2 linked regions of the Homo sapiens genome follow. The protein of the gene in region 1 interacts with the protein of each later gene in a biochemical or structural test. Each region holds a gene or a part of one and is shown in the gene's direction. Other genes may lie near its edges.

Evidence for each region.
Region 2: the proteins of NHERF1 (region 1) and ABCC4 form a complex in vitro, tested with the Homo sapiens proteins (3 studies listed by BioGRID and IntAct, with this or other methods).

The regions. Positions count from the first base shown.
Region 1 is NC_000017.11:74,751,617-74,758,645, forward strand, and holds part of NHERF1 (Na(+)/H(+) exchange regulatory cofactor NHE-RF1), read left to right. Parts: intron 1-7,029. UniProt on the Homo sapiens protein: Scaffold protein that connects plasma membrane proteins with members of the ezrin/moesin/radixin family and thereby helps to link them to the actin cytoskeleton and to regulate their surface expression. Necessary for recycling of internalized ADRB2.
Region 2 is NC_000013.11:95,158,452-95,165,480, reverse strand, and holds part of ABCC4 (ATP-binding cassette sub-family C member 4), read left to right. Parts: intron 1-962; coding exon 963-1,103; intron 1,104-1,833; coding exon 1,834-1,871; intron 1,872-2,264; coding exon 2,265-2,359; intron 2,360-4,145; coding exon 4,146-4,292; intron 4,293-7,029. UniProt on the Homo sapiens protein: ATP-dependent transporter of the ATP-binding cassette (ABC) family that actively extrudes physiological compounds and xenobiotics from cells.

The DNA.
Region 1 (7,029 bases):
TGGCTCTCCAGCTCTGCCCACCGGCTTTGCTTTGTGGATGGCCTTCCCCGCCTGCCCCGTGGGGAGAGAGGAGCAGCAAGACCCGCCCTGCTGTTCCCCTGCTTAAAGCCCTCCTCCCCCCATTCACCACCAGTCACAGGATGAGGCCTAAACCCTTGAGTCTGGGTTCAGAGTGCCGGCCGGGCAGAGCCGAGCCAGCTCAGCTGTACTAGCCAGGCTGTGCGAAGCCAAGTTACCTCACCTCTGTAAGCCTCCATTTCCTCTTGTGTAAGTTGGGGGTTATGGCAGCTACCTCGGAATTGCATGAGGCTGTGTGTAAAGCACGTAGCTCAGTGCCTGGCACTGAGTCCAGGCTCAGCCAGCCTTTGCAGTTGGTATTGGAATGAATACATATTTCATAGTGATCATTGCACACCTATCATGGGGCAGCTAGCGCTGGGTCAGCCTGCCTAGTTGGGCAAATGCCACTGTGGCCAAGCCTGGCACACAGTCAGTGCCTGATCGATGGTCACTGTGGGTTAAGAATGATACGTTGTGGCCAGGTGTGGTGGCTCACACCTGTAATCCCAGCACTTTGGGAGGCCAAAGTGGGAGGATCGCCTGAGCCCAGGAGTTTGAGACCAGCCTAGGCAACATGACAAGACCCTGTCTCTATTAAATTTTTTCTTTTTTTTTTTTAAGAGTTATATGCTGTTCCATGGCCCTTCTCCATCTGGCAGCCTGTTCTCACCACTGCCTCCCTACCCCCAAAACCACACCCAGGGTCCGAATTCCCCTCTAGCCTCTAAGCCTTCACACCCTGACACTTCTGTCCCCTCCCAGGGAGCCTGTCCTTAATCCAGTAGGCAGAGTTAGCATTTCCTTTCCTTCACTTTTTTTGTTTTTGTTTTTGTTTTTGTTTTTTTTGAGACAGATTCCACCCAGGCTGGAGTGGTGTCGCAACCTCGCCTCGCTGCAGCCTCGACCTCCAGGGCTCAATCGATCCTCCCACCTCATTCTCCCTAGTAGCTGGGACTACAGGCATGCACCACTATTCCCAGCTAATTTTTAAATTCTTTGTAGAGATGGAGTTTCACCGTGTTGCCCAGGCTGGTCTTGAACTCCTGGGCTGAGGTGATCTGCCAGCCTCGGCCTCCGCCTCCTCTTTGTCCTTACATCTTTTATCGCTCTAAACACACAATATTTTAATCATCTGTTTGTGACCTTTTTCTCCACTACGTGGTAAGCCCAAGGGCATCAACTGTGGCCTATTTGTGTTTCTATCCCCAGCGCTGTCCTTGGCACATGGTAGGGAGGCTCTCAAAAACAGTTTTTGAATTAATGAATGAATATATAACAACAGTCAGGGACCTTTGTCCTCATTCAGCTCATCCCGCCCCGCCCAGAGATTGGAATTCCAGATAGAACCTACCCACTCTTCTTTCTTGCCTGCTAGCAGCTTCTATTTGAAAACTAGAAAGCCAAAAGTCCAGGCTTTGGGGTCAGCCAGATCAGTGTTTGAATCCCAGCTCTGCCGTGTGCTGGTTCTGGGATCCTGGGAGTTCATTTTTCCCTGCAACCCTCAGCCTCCACCTCTGTGAAAGGCACTGCCTGCAGGGTTATTGGGAAGATTTGGTGGCATGACAGGTTTGTAAATGAAAGTGCTAGTTTGGGGTGTTTCCTGCCAGCCCTGACCCTGATCCCAGAGTCAGAGTGCAGGCACCCCAGGGAGCAAGGTGGGTGGTGGGGCACAGTTAGCTGGAGGGCCATCAACCTCTTTCCCAGGGCGGGCGGGCCATTTTACACCAACCAAGTTGGAGCTCTGGTAGGGCAGAACAGAGCTTGAGCTGCTGGGTGTTTGGATTTGAAATGGACAGGGTATGTGATTGTTTGTGTGTTGGGATCTCTTTCTTTGCTGGCAAAACAGTGTAGCCCCTGGTTCTTACCTTCAAGCTCCTGTTAACTCAGTAATTCTGGAGATGATTCTCTTGGAGATAGATGGGGGCTTCCTGGCCGGGCGCAGTGACTTGTGCCTGTAATCCCATCACTTCGGGAGGCTGAGGCGGGAGGATCGCTTAAGCCCAGGAGTTTGAGACCAGCCTGGGCAACATAGTGAGACCTCGTCTCTACCAAAAAAACAGGGGGAGGGGGGTGAATGGGGGCTTCCTTCTCAAGGAACTCCATATGTCTAGATGGGGTCCTTCTCCCCTTTCCCAGATGTCCCATCTCAATGGTCCCTGGGAAAGTGGGGTGGGAAATTAATAAGAAACTCAGGCCAGGCACGGTGGCTCACGCCTGTAATCCCAGCACTTTGGGAGGCCGAGGCGGGTGGATCAGTTGAGGTCAGGAGTTGAGGTCAGGAGTTCAAGACCAGCCTGGCCAACATGGTAAAAACCCATCTCTACTAAAAATACAAAAATTAGCGAGGCGTGGTGGCAGGTGCCTGTAATCCCAGCTACTCGGGAGTCTGAGGCAGGAGAATGGCTTGAACCTGGGAGGTGGAGGTTTCAGTGAGCCGAGATCGCGCCACTGCACTCCAGCCCGAGCAGCAGAGTGAGACTCATCTCCAAAATAAAAAAAAAAGAAAGAAGAAGCTCAGCCGAGGTCTTGTTGGTGCTGCAGGACTCTTTACAGGGAGAAACCAGAGCTCTAGACCCCAATAACAAATGTTCCTCTGTTTTCGTTGCTCTAAGATAGAGTGGCCCTACCTGGAAGGAAACAGGTTTGTACAGTGCCTTTAGGCACTCTACCTATGACATAAAGATGTTGACATGCATTTCTTTCTTTCTTTCTTTCTTTCTTTCTTTTTTTTTTTTTTTTTTTTCCTGAGACAGTCTTGCTCTGTTGCCCAGGCTGGAGTGCAGTGGTGTGATCTCGGCTCACTGCAACCTCCGTCTCTCAAGTTCAAGCAATTGTCCTGCCTCAGCCTTCCATGTAGCTAGGATTACAAACACCCGCCACCACACCCTGCTAATTTTTGTATTTTTAGTAGAGACGGAGTTTCACCACGGTGGCCAGGCTGGGTGGCACCTGTCACAACACCCTGCTAATTTTTGTATTTTTAGTAGAGATGGGGTTTCACCACATTGGCCAGGCTGGTTTCAAACTCCTGACCTCAGGTAATCCACCTGCCTCGGTCTCCCAAAGTGCTGGGATTATAGGCATGAGCCACCACACCCAGCCAATATGCATTTCATTGTCCCCCAGACAAATTAGCTATTGTTTTCTCTATTTTGTAGGTTGACAGTAAGTGTTCAATACATGATAGCTACTATTTGTGTCTAGCACTGTGCTAAGTACTAACCTTGCCTGTCTCATTTAATCCACATGACCACCAGTGAGGCAGATATTGGCCCCATTCTCTGCCTATGGAGGCTGAGGCTTGATCAGTTAAGGTGGCCATGGCGGGTCCCAGGACTCTGAGCTAGCGACTCCTCCCACACAGCGCAGGGGTGTGTCTTGGAACCCAACCCTCTGACTCTAGTGCCTGCACAGCCATTTGGCCACATGAGTAGGCTGTGCTTGAAGCCTGACTCTGCCAGGTGTTTCTGCCCATCATATTCTGAGCCACAGCTGGACCATCACAGTGGTATAAATTCAGGCTGCTTGAACTGGCTTCCTGTAAGGATCCAGGGCTTCCAGGTGCTCCTGTCCCTAGCAGGGCATCCTTGCAGTGCCTCAGCCCATAAGTGGCAGGCTCCTGTCCCCATCCCTTCTCACGTGATGTGATAGGTCAATCTGGAATCTGGTAACCAAGTATCTACCCCCGCCCTCACTCCCCAGAACCTGCACAGAGAGCCCCCCTCAAGGGTGGTCTTCACTGTTGACCGAAGCCTTCCCCTCATGGTAGGACAACTCACCATGTCCCCAGACTCCTAGGCAATGTTTAGGTCCCTAGGCCCTAGAAAAGGACAAGAGTTACAGATTCCCTGAGGTCCAGGTCACCTCGGGGTGGTGTGGGAACACACAGAGAATGCTGGCCAGGTTCAAGTCCCACTCACTGCTGGGTGCTGAGAGCTCTGAATTCTCCGAGACAGGCTGCAGCCTCTCCCTGTGCTAAGGTCAGGGGAACAGCAATGGCCAGGGGTATTTAGAGGAGTGTGTTTGGGGCAGTCTCAGGCAGCACAGGTCTGTGCTGTCCGGGCAGCAGCCACCAGCTTCGCGAGGCTCCCGGGCACTCGAGATGTGCTGGTCCACATGCAGACGTGCTGTGTGTGCAAAATGCACACCAGATTTTGAAGCCATTGTACAAATAAAAGGATGTACAATAGCTCAATTGTTAAAAATGGATTACACATTGAAATGATAATATTTTGGGTACATTATGTTAAATAAAATATTCAATTCTACTATTTTTCCTGTTTTTTTTTTTTTTGGAGGCAGAGTCTCGCTCTGTTGCCCAGGCTGGAGTGCAGTGGTGCGATCTCGGCTCACTGCAAGCTCCACCTCCCAGGTTCAAGCGATTCTCCTGCCTCAGCCTCCCAAGTAGCTGTGCACCACCACGCCCAGCTGATTTTTGTATTTTTCTTTTTTAGTAGAGATAGGGTTTCACCATGTTGACCAGGCTGGTCTCAAACTCCTGTGCTCAAGTGATCCACTTGCCTCGTCCTCCCAAAATGCTGGGATTACAGGCATGAGCCACCACACCTGGCCTATTTTTCTTTTCTTTCTTTCTTTCTTTTTTTTTTTTTTTTTTTTTTTGAGACGGAGCCTTGCTCTATCACCCAGGCTGGAGTGCAGTGGCGTGATCTCGGCTCACTGCAACCTCCGCCTCCTGGGTTCAAGCGGTTCTCGTGCCTCAGCCTCTGGAGTAGCTGGGACCACAGGTGTGCACCACCACATATGTCTAATTTTCATATTTTTAGTTGAGACAGGGTTTCACCATGTTGGCCATGCTGGTCTTGAACTCCCGACCTCAGGTGATCCACCTGCCTTGGCCTCCCAAAATGCTGGGATTACAAGTGTGAGCCACTGCACCCGGCCTATTTTTCCTTTTTCAAATGTGATGACTAGAAAATCTTACATTCCACACATGGCTGGCATTATATATCTACTGGACAGTGCTGCTCTGGATCTGAGCTCAAATCCTGCCTTTGCCCGTCAGCCATGTGTACTTGAGCAACTGACTCCAGCTTTTTGAAGCTGGGTTTCCTTTTCTGTGAAATGCTGGCAATAATACTTTCCTTTTAGGACTATAATTGGCTCTTAAGAAGAAAACACATGTAAAGAGCTCGGTGCCTAACACATAGTAGGTGTTCAGTAAATAGCAGCTGCTATTTGTTACTTCAGTGTTGAGCCCCAATTTCACAAGCTCCTTGAAGGTTCTTAATAGCCCCTTGGGACAACCCCTGGGGGTTAAATCTAGAGACTTCTGGGAGGAGGGTGAGGGATGAGGAAGGATGCAGCAGGGAAGGCATGGGGCGGCCAGCCCTGGATGGTGTCCAGCCGGGCTGCAGCCCAGGTACCAGCCTGCTCCATCCCAGGCTTGCCCAGCCCTGCAGAGACCTGAGCCAGACTCTGCCCCCTCTTGCCCCCGTGGGTCTCCATGGCTGGCACAGGGAGAAGAGGTTACTAGCCAGAAGGAGAACCTGTTTCAGACCTCTGAGTCCTGGGGGTGTCTGTCAGACCAGCAGACCTCACTTTAGTTTGTGTCTCCCTCCTGGTTCCCACCCTACCAGACTCCAGGGAAAGCTCTTCCCACTGAGAAATAGGAAGGAAGAGATCAAGGGCTAGGAGCAGTGAGTGACTTTTTTTAAAATGGACACATCCAACATTCCCCTGCCGCCCGCACAGACCTGGAGGGATGTGGAGGGTGGAAGGGGGTCCCATAGAGTAAAATGAGGTGACATCAGGGCCACTACGCAGGGGGCCAGTGACAGCCAAGCCCCCTGTACCTCACCTAGGGTAAGGAGAAGACACCTTCTGCCTAGAGGTGTGGACACTGGCTGAGTGCCTGGAGCCCCTGGTCACTTCCCAGTGCCCCCAGGCTGCCCGTCACACAGCACTCCAGGCAGGGCCAGCTGTCTCCATCCTGGCTTCCTTGAAGAGCTGGCACCAGGCCCAGCCCTGTCTCCAGAATCTGGGGAACAAACTGAGCTGTCTCCCAGAGCAAATATGGCTCTTACACCCAACATACTCCTGACACACACACCCCAGCCCCTGAGAACAGCCAGGGTTCCTTCCTGCCCCCGCCGTCCTGCCCCCTTCCATCCTCTTGTTGGGGCTGATTTTCCTGTATTGGGCATGGGGCACTGGTCTTCTTTGCATAAACAAGAGCCCTGGGCTGGGGGAGGGGCAGTCTTGAGAGGTGGGGTTACCTCTGTTGTTCCCCTGGACACCCAAGTGGTCTTCCTACTCCTCCAGCCCCTTTCCTCTGGGGTCCTGAGCTAGCTGGCTCGAAGGAAGCGGGCTGGGCTGTTTCTGTAGGGCCCATCACCATGGCATCAGCCAGGGAGGGGCTGGGCCCAATGGGGCGTTGGCCCCCAGGCTCCCACAGCCTTCCCTGAAGGGAGGAAGGAGGAGCAGGGAGCGGCCCTGGGCCTGTTCCCCAGAGACGGTCACTGGGATTAGGGTATCGACTTTCCCCAGCTTTCCAGGTGACTGCTGGTGGCGCCTATTGAATTCCGTGCCCGCCATCCGCTCCCTGGACTGCGTGGGTGGAGGTGATGGGGCGGCCACTTAGGGCGCGGTGAAGCTCCCTGGGGGAAAGGACAGATGAAGGGAGGAAGCCTGAGGGTGGAGGAGGCCCCGGGAGAAGGGTGTGGGGGCAGCTCTCCGGGCAGGGTCTTTTCTGGAAAGCCAGCCAGCATTTTGTGAAAGTGAGAGTCTCCAGCCTGTCCAGCCCTGGGTCACCCCGGCCCAGCTGCGCTGCCCATCGGCTGCATGGCCTCATGTTCCCTCCTGTTGATTCTGGCTCTCTGCCAGTCTCCTCTCTGAGCAGATCCTGATTTTGTCTTGAACTTGGGTCTCCCAGGCTGTCGTCGTCACTGGAGGTCCCACTTTGCCCTCCGGAACTCACTGGGGCTATGTTCCTTTTGAGTCTCCTCCTCC
Region 2 (7,029 bases), on another chromosome or scaffold:
AATGTACCAGAGCTCACTTAAAAGCATAGATATTCCTTGCCACACAAACCCTGACTATCCAAATCCAGGAGACTGAAGGATTCTTGCAGATATTCAGATTAGGCCCTCACATGCCAAATTATCAGGAGTCAATTTCTGAAACTCAGGAACCAAATAGATTAGGATCATATGCTATCCCTTCCTTTCCAAACTCTGGTTACTGAGACTCACTGCTTGACCCCAGTTACTGTGTTGAGCTCATGTTTTGACCCCCTGCTCTTTTATGTTTCCATCTTGAGTGATGCAGTTGAGAGTTCCATATCTTTTTGTATATGATTTTGGAACAAGTTTCTGTATTGACACTTGAATTTGGGTGTGCTAGGTAAGTGCTGAACATCCTGATGGCATCCTTCCAGCAAGCCACGCCACAATGTCCAAATGATATTTCCTTATCTCTAGTAGAACCTTGAAAGTGGGATGGCTGGGTCCAAGGATTAGTGCATATAGCTGGGTGTGGTGGCTCATGCCTGCAATCCCAGCGCTTTGGAAGTCCGAGGTGAGAGGATCACCTGAGGTCAGGAGTTCCAGATCAGCCTGGCCAACATGGTGAAAACCTGTCTTCACTAAAAAATACAAAAAATTAGCCAGGCGTGGTAGCAGGCATCTGTAATCCCTGCTACTCAGGAGGCTGAGGCAGGATAATTGCTTGAACCTAGGAGGCAGAGGTTGCAGTGAGCCAAGATCGCGCCACTACACTCCAGCCTGGGAAACATGAGCAAAATTCTGAGTCAAAAAAAAATTAAATAAATAAAAAATAAGTGGATGTATAGTTTGGCTAGCTATTTCCACACCCTTCTCCACAGGAGATGGATCATTTTGGACTTCTGCCTGTTTCCCCACAGCTTTGTCAACAGAGTGCATTGTCATCTTTGGGAACAGTTTTGTATACTGTTTTGTCTCTTACCACCTTTTTTCCTCTGCAGACAGAGAATGTCCCAGTTACACTATCAGAGGAGAACCGTTCTGAAGGAAAAGTTGGTTTTCAGGCCTATAAGAATTACTTCAGAGCTGGTGCTCACTGGATTGTCTTCATTTTCCTTATTCTCCTAAACACTGCAGCTCAGGTAAATAATGACATTTGTTTTGCGCCCTCAAAATGATATTTACAGTACCTATGTTTATGCTATTATGACTGCATCTTGCAGTTCACTTGGGGTCTGAATTGAAATGTGCTGTCTTTGGGGAACAAAGTGAGGGCTGCCTACTGGTGTTCCATGTCCGTTACAAAGACCTGCGAAAAAAGGGTATCTTTCAATGATTTTAAAATGGAATATGCATTTTCTTGAACCCTTGATATCTGGGAGTTTGGGCTTGGCACAGACCTGAGCTGGAAGAACTATGCGAGTTCTCTGAGCCTTTTATTCTTTCTTTCTTTCTTTCTTTCTTTTTTTTTTTTTTTTTGAGATGGAGTTTTGCTCTGTTGCCCAGGTTGGAGTGCAGTGGCGCGATCTTGGCTCACTTCAACCTCTGCCTCTGGGGTTTAAGCAATTCTCCTGTCTCAGCCTCCGGAGTAGCTGGGACTACAGGCACATGTGCCACCATGCCCAGCTAGGCTAATTTTTGTATTTTTAGTAGAGATAGGGTTTCACTATGTTGGCCAGGCTGGTCTCGAACTCCTGGCCTTAAGTTGATCCGCCTGCCTCAGCCTCCCAAAGTGCTGGGGTTTACAAGCATGAGCCACCACGCCCGGCTTTGAGGGCTTTCTTTCGGTTGTCCATGTTAGCGATTGAGAGTTTTGAGTTGGTAAGTCATGCCCAAGTTTGATTTTTGTCTTTGTTGTTTCTCCCCTCCTAGGTTGCCTATGTGCTTCAAGATTGGTGGCTTTCATACTGGTAAGTTATTTCTGGTCTGATGTATGAAATACTCCAAAATCAGTAAGAAGACTCGCTTTTCCATAGAGTTAGAGGGAGGTGTTTGTTGATCCTTCTCTTCTAATCCTCACTTCGTTTACCCGAAGAAAAATTAGAGTGCTTGCTGGTGGAGTGTAAACTGCGGTGGTCTCCACCCATGTCTGATCCGCGGCATCATGTTCACAGACAGTTTCGGGAACTGAAAGTTGTGATTTAAATTGAATTTTTATAAGGTAGATATACACAAGACTAAGTGAGCTGAGAATCATTTTCCAGCATGAAGCGTTTCTCCCAAATTGTGGTTCATTTTTAAAAAAATGTATTTATCTAAATTTCATATATAGCTTAATATTTTTTTCTCCCCATGTTCCATAGGGCAAACAAACAAAGTATGCTAAATGTCACTGTAAATGGAGGAGGAAATGTAACCGAGAAGCTAGATCTTAACTGGTACTTAGGAATTTATTCAGGTAAAGTTTAATCATTTGGTGTATTGTATGAGAGGCTGAGGTGCTTACAATGAGCCTGTGTGAGTAACTAGGGCTTCCAGGAGTCATTCAGTAATGTCTTAACAGATCAGGAGTCTCAGTCGAATTTACTCTGTGAATTAATTAGAATAATTATTTTAAAAATCTACTAGAAGAGAGGTTGACTGAAGACTCTTAATTTGCTCTGTACTGGATTTTGAAAGTTAAACCAGGATTGAGCATTCAGAAAATCAGCCACTGGAAATATGTGGCTATTGTCTATTCTAATAGGTTGCTTTAGCTAAATCTTATATCATTATACGGATGGGCAGGGGGATTAGAAACGGATCTCCACCCTGTGGTTCGGATGGTTCCAATTCTGTCTAAATAAACCCTGGCTTTTATTGAACTTGGATGAAATCCTCTGGCAGCAAGGCCCCCAAAATAAAAGCATTATTCCCTCCCAGGTATGCAAAGCTCCCTTCAGCACTGCTCATCTCCTGGGCTTCACTAATTACTTAAGAGGGAAGCTGAGCAGGGAAAAATCCAGTGTCTGGGAATTAGGATGCCTTCTATTTCTTACCTTGAGATCACAATGTTATCGCGTCCCCAACTGTGTGATTAATTTAACATTTGGCTTGCCAGACTAATATTAACGCCACACTCTGTTTTCACAAGAGTGCTTAGAATGTATGTAGCATTACATACTGTTTAAAGAAAATCTTCATCTAAAATTTTAAATATTTCCACAGGAAATGCTCCTACAAGCTTTCCTCAGAGATAGAGTGAGTTATCTTTGTAAGAACCTACTCAGTGAAATTTGGTGTTTATTTCATCGATCGCTTGCTAAGAAATCTAAATCTGTTAGGTGTTTACCTTCCAACTGATGGACTATGTGGAAACTAAAGGAAGAAGGAAATCTATTATGTTCTATTATGTTCGTGTAGGATGGCAGGCTAAGGATAATGCCCGTTGATGGAGTTAGGAATTTGAGCTGCTTTCAGAGGTTAAATAACAGTGACATGTCATCTGAAAGGGAAATATTTGTTATAGAAGTTACCCCCACTGTATTTAGCATTGTGAATGAAGAGATGTTAGGAAAGCTCTTTTAATTTCTATGTGAATAATGGATCCTCATTCATGTCTTAATAAAATGTATGATTTATTTTATTCATTTAAAAATGTCTTGTGTCTATGTAAAACAGTGGGGGATTAGTTGCTTATTTAGATTAATTATCTTATGTTAAAATATAATTTGTGTTTTCTTGCAATTCAATTATTCAAGAGGTTTTCCACATGCAACTTAATACGGTATTTTTAAATTCTTTAAAGCTACTTGGGCATTTTCTACAAGGAAAAGGTAAATCATTTCTCCTATTCCTTGTTAATATCACATGTTGGTATCAAAACATACCACCTTTTTTAGATTATGGGACATAATGTAAGTAATAAGATTTGGAATATGGAGAAGATCAACTACACTTCATGATTATCTATCCTACTTCTGAGTTTTTAATAGAACTTGCAATTGAATTAGAGCCTAGAATGAAATTGTATTATACACCTGATTTTTCTTTTCTGTGCAGTTTCCATTCAGTGAGAGAAAAATAAACTATTTTAATCCTTCTTTGTCAATGTATTTTGTAAATACATTATACTTATGTAGAATCCAGATGCTTTATGGAATAAATTAAGTAACATCTTTATAAACTACCTGGCTTGCTTTAGCAACTATTGAAGAAAATGCAGAGATATGCTGTGTTCTCTAAGTGATATTTCTTTATTTCAGGTTTAACTGTAGCTACCGTTCTTTTTGGCATAGCAAGATCTCTATTGGTATTCTACGTCCTTGTTAACTCTTCACAAACTTTGCACAACAAAATGTTTGAGTCAATTCTGAAAGCTCCGGTATTATTCTTTGATAGAAATCCAATAGGTAAGTCTGACACCAAGTTTCTCAGTAAGTATGTCTTGTTAACAACACATTTAGGATCTGATTACATTTCCATCTTTGAAAATGGAAGGGATGCTGGGAAGAAAATCACTATGCATGTTGATTCATTTTCCACAAGAAACTTCACTGATATTTTTCTCCTACCAGAGAAAATCTAAATATGCGGGGGGAGGGGGGGGCATACAATCTTTTATTCCAATTTATATGTGTGTGGAAAAATAAATGAATGTTCACTTTGCAGAATGCTTTAGGAATCCATTTGCTGTGAGGCAAGTGAAGCATCCTGCATTCCCTGTAAACATGTTTAAATGTAGTTGAATAGTTGCTAAACATTGGCTGTGTTTACATAGTGTTAGGTTATGCCATTTTTCAGAGGGATCTTTGTAATCAGGAATGCTCTGACGTGAGACAGGCCGTGCATTTCTTTCTTTCATTGGGAAACCCGTTCATTTCTGGAAACACAGGGTTTTTGTACATACCCTGACTGTGAGGTTTCCCTGAAAGATAATATGTGGTTAATTAAAAGCCAAGATTGATAAAATGTAAACTCCCCTTCAAGAACAGTTTCTAACTCTGTGGTTTTGAAGTAGACTTTTGGTTCTATAATAGAGACTTTGTTGAACCTGCCATATAGATCTTCAGTAGCTTGTTTCCTAGGTATACCCAACTATACCCAGTATTTTCCAAGTGGTTGATGCCTCTGCACTATGCGCTTCTTATCTGTCCTGCTTCTGAGGCTAGCCTTCCTGACCTGGGTTCCTAGGGAGAATTAGTTGTGCCTATAAGTCCCCACCCTGCTCAGTTGAGTGGACTTGTGGGGAGGCCTGAGTGACATTGTGCAAATGATAACTGCCCTCATAGAAGCAGGGAGGTGGCCTGGAGAGAACACAGGCACAGCTTTGGCCTGGCCATTGACTAGCTTTTTGACCAAGGCCAGAGCACATAGGTGCTATTACACAGGCAAGTCTCCAAGCAGATGCTGTAGTTCAAAGTGTGAACTCAAGCTAACTACCTGGGTTCAATCCTGGTGCTGGTTACTAATTGTTATAGCTGATTATAGTTACATTCATATTCATGTCCTAGTTACTTAATTTTTCTGTGTCACAGTTTTCTTATCTGTAAAATAGGGATACTATTCATACCCACCAAATTGAAATCTTATGAGAATTAAGCATGTTAATACATTCCTAGCACATGAAACTGGGTGTAGCAACATGGTCAGTGCCTAACGAATGTTAGTGACAATGAAGCCATGTATCTGTGAACTGAATCACCTTCACTGTGGGGTGGAAATTACTCCTACCCTCTCTGTTTTACATGATTTTTGTGAAGATTAAAGAAGACTGTTCTGGAAAGCATCTTGTGTAGATTTATTTAACAAATACTTTTCAGTCCAAGCACTGTGCAACGTGCAAGGATTTGTAAACTGCAGAGACCACACAAATATCGGTCTGATTTCAGCTGTTATTAGAAAGTCATTGGAGGACCTCTGCGCTATTACAGCTGTAACGTTGCGCCACTTTGCCAGTTAATTTGAAACTACAGTCATAACATTTGGAGCATTAAGTGGGACTGCCTTTCTGTTATCACAGGCCTCGGAATGCTCATGACTACCATTAACCAGCCTCTCCATGTTTGAGACCTGTGGGCTTCTCCTCATGCTGATTTATTTATTATTCAGGGATTTGGGACCCAGTCTAAATCTTGGAGGTGACTAATCTTACAGCAGCACCTGAGTGTTTATCTTGCTTCCTCCTCCTATATCTATTAGCATGACTTTATTCCTTCAACAAAATAGAAGCCCAAATAAGTACCCCAAGAGAGGTCTACTTTGTCCAAAATGTTTAGAGGTCATGAATTATTTACTTTTTTTAGTGGTAGATGTTGAAAAAATGTAAAAATTAAAAGTTTTTTAATGGTAGAATTAAAATTTTCATTTAGATAAAATTTTTGCACTTTTTACAATGGTGAAGGATACACAAAATCTGTGAATTACGCCTCAGAATTCACATTACTGATTGTATGCACTTCAATAGTTATATATATATATATATATATATATATATATATATATATAAAATTTATTTAGAAATAAGGTCTCATTCTGTTGACTAGACTGGAGTGCAGTGATGTGATCACAGCTCACTGTAGCCTTGACCTCCTGGGCTCAAGCGATCCTCCTGCCTCAGCCTTCCAAGTAGTTGGGACCACAGGCCTGTGTCACCATGGCCAGCTAATTTTTAAAATTTATTTTATTCTATTTTGAAGAGATGGGATCTCACTATGTTACCCGGGCTGGTCTCGAACTCCTGTGCTCAAGGGATCTTCCTGCCTCAGTCTCCTCAAGTGCTGGGATTACAGGCATGAGCCACTGGACCCAGCCGGCTTTATAATATAAATAAAAATTCCCCTCTATGATAGTGAGGCAGGCATGCTCGATTTTTCAGTACTCTTAAACATACATGTTAAATATGTATAAGTATCTGGCATGATGTTGTGCCCCCTGAATTGCAGAGTGTTCTTTGAGTGGGGTAGAAAGACTGGGAAGCATGTCTGAATACTTAGTTATTAAAAGCAAGCTCTTAGAAGAGCCCCGGGGGAGTTTCCTATGAGCTCAGCATCCTGATATTCTCCCAGGTTTTAGAAAACTTAGGAAACGGGGAGGACCTCTGCTGGCATGTAGTTTCCAGTAAGCTCACCTTGGGATGGTGACTGGCAC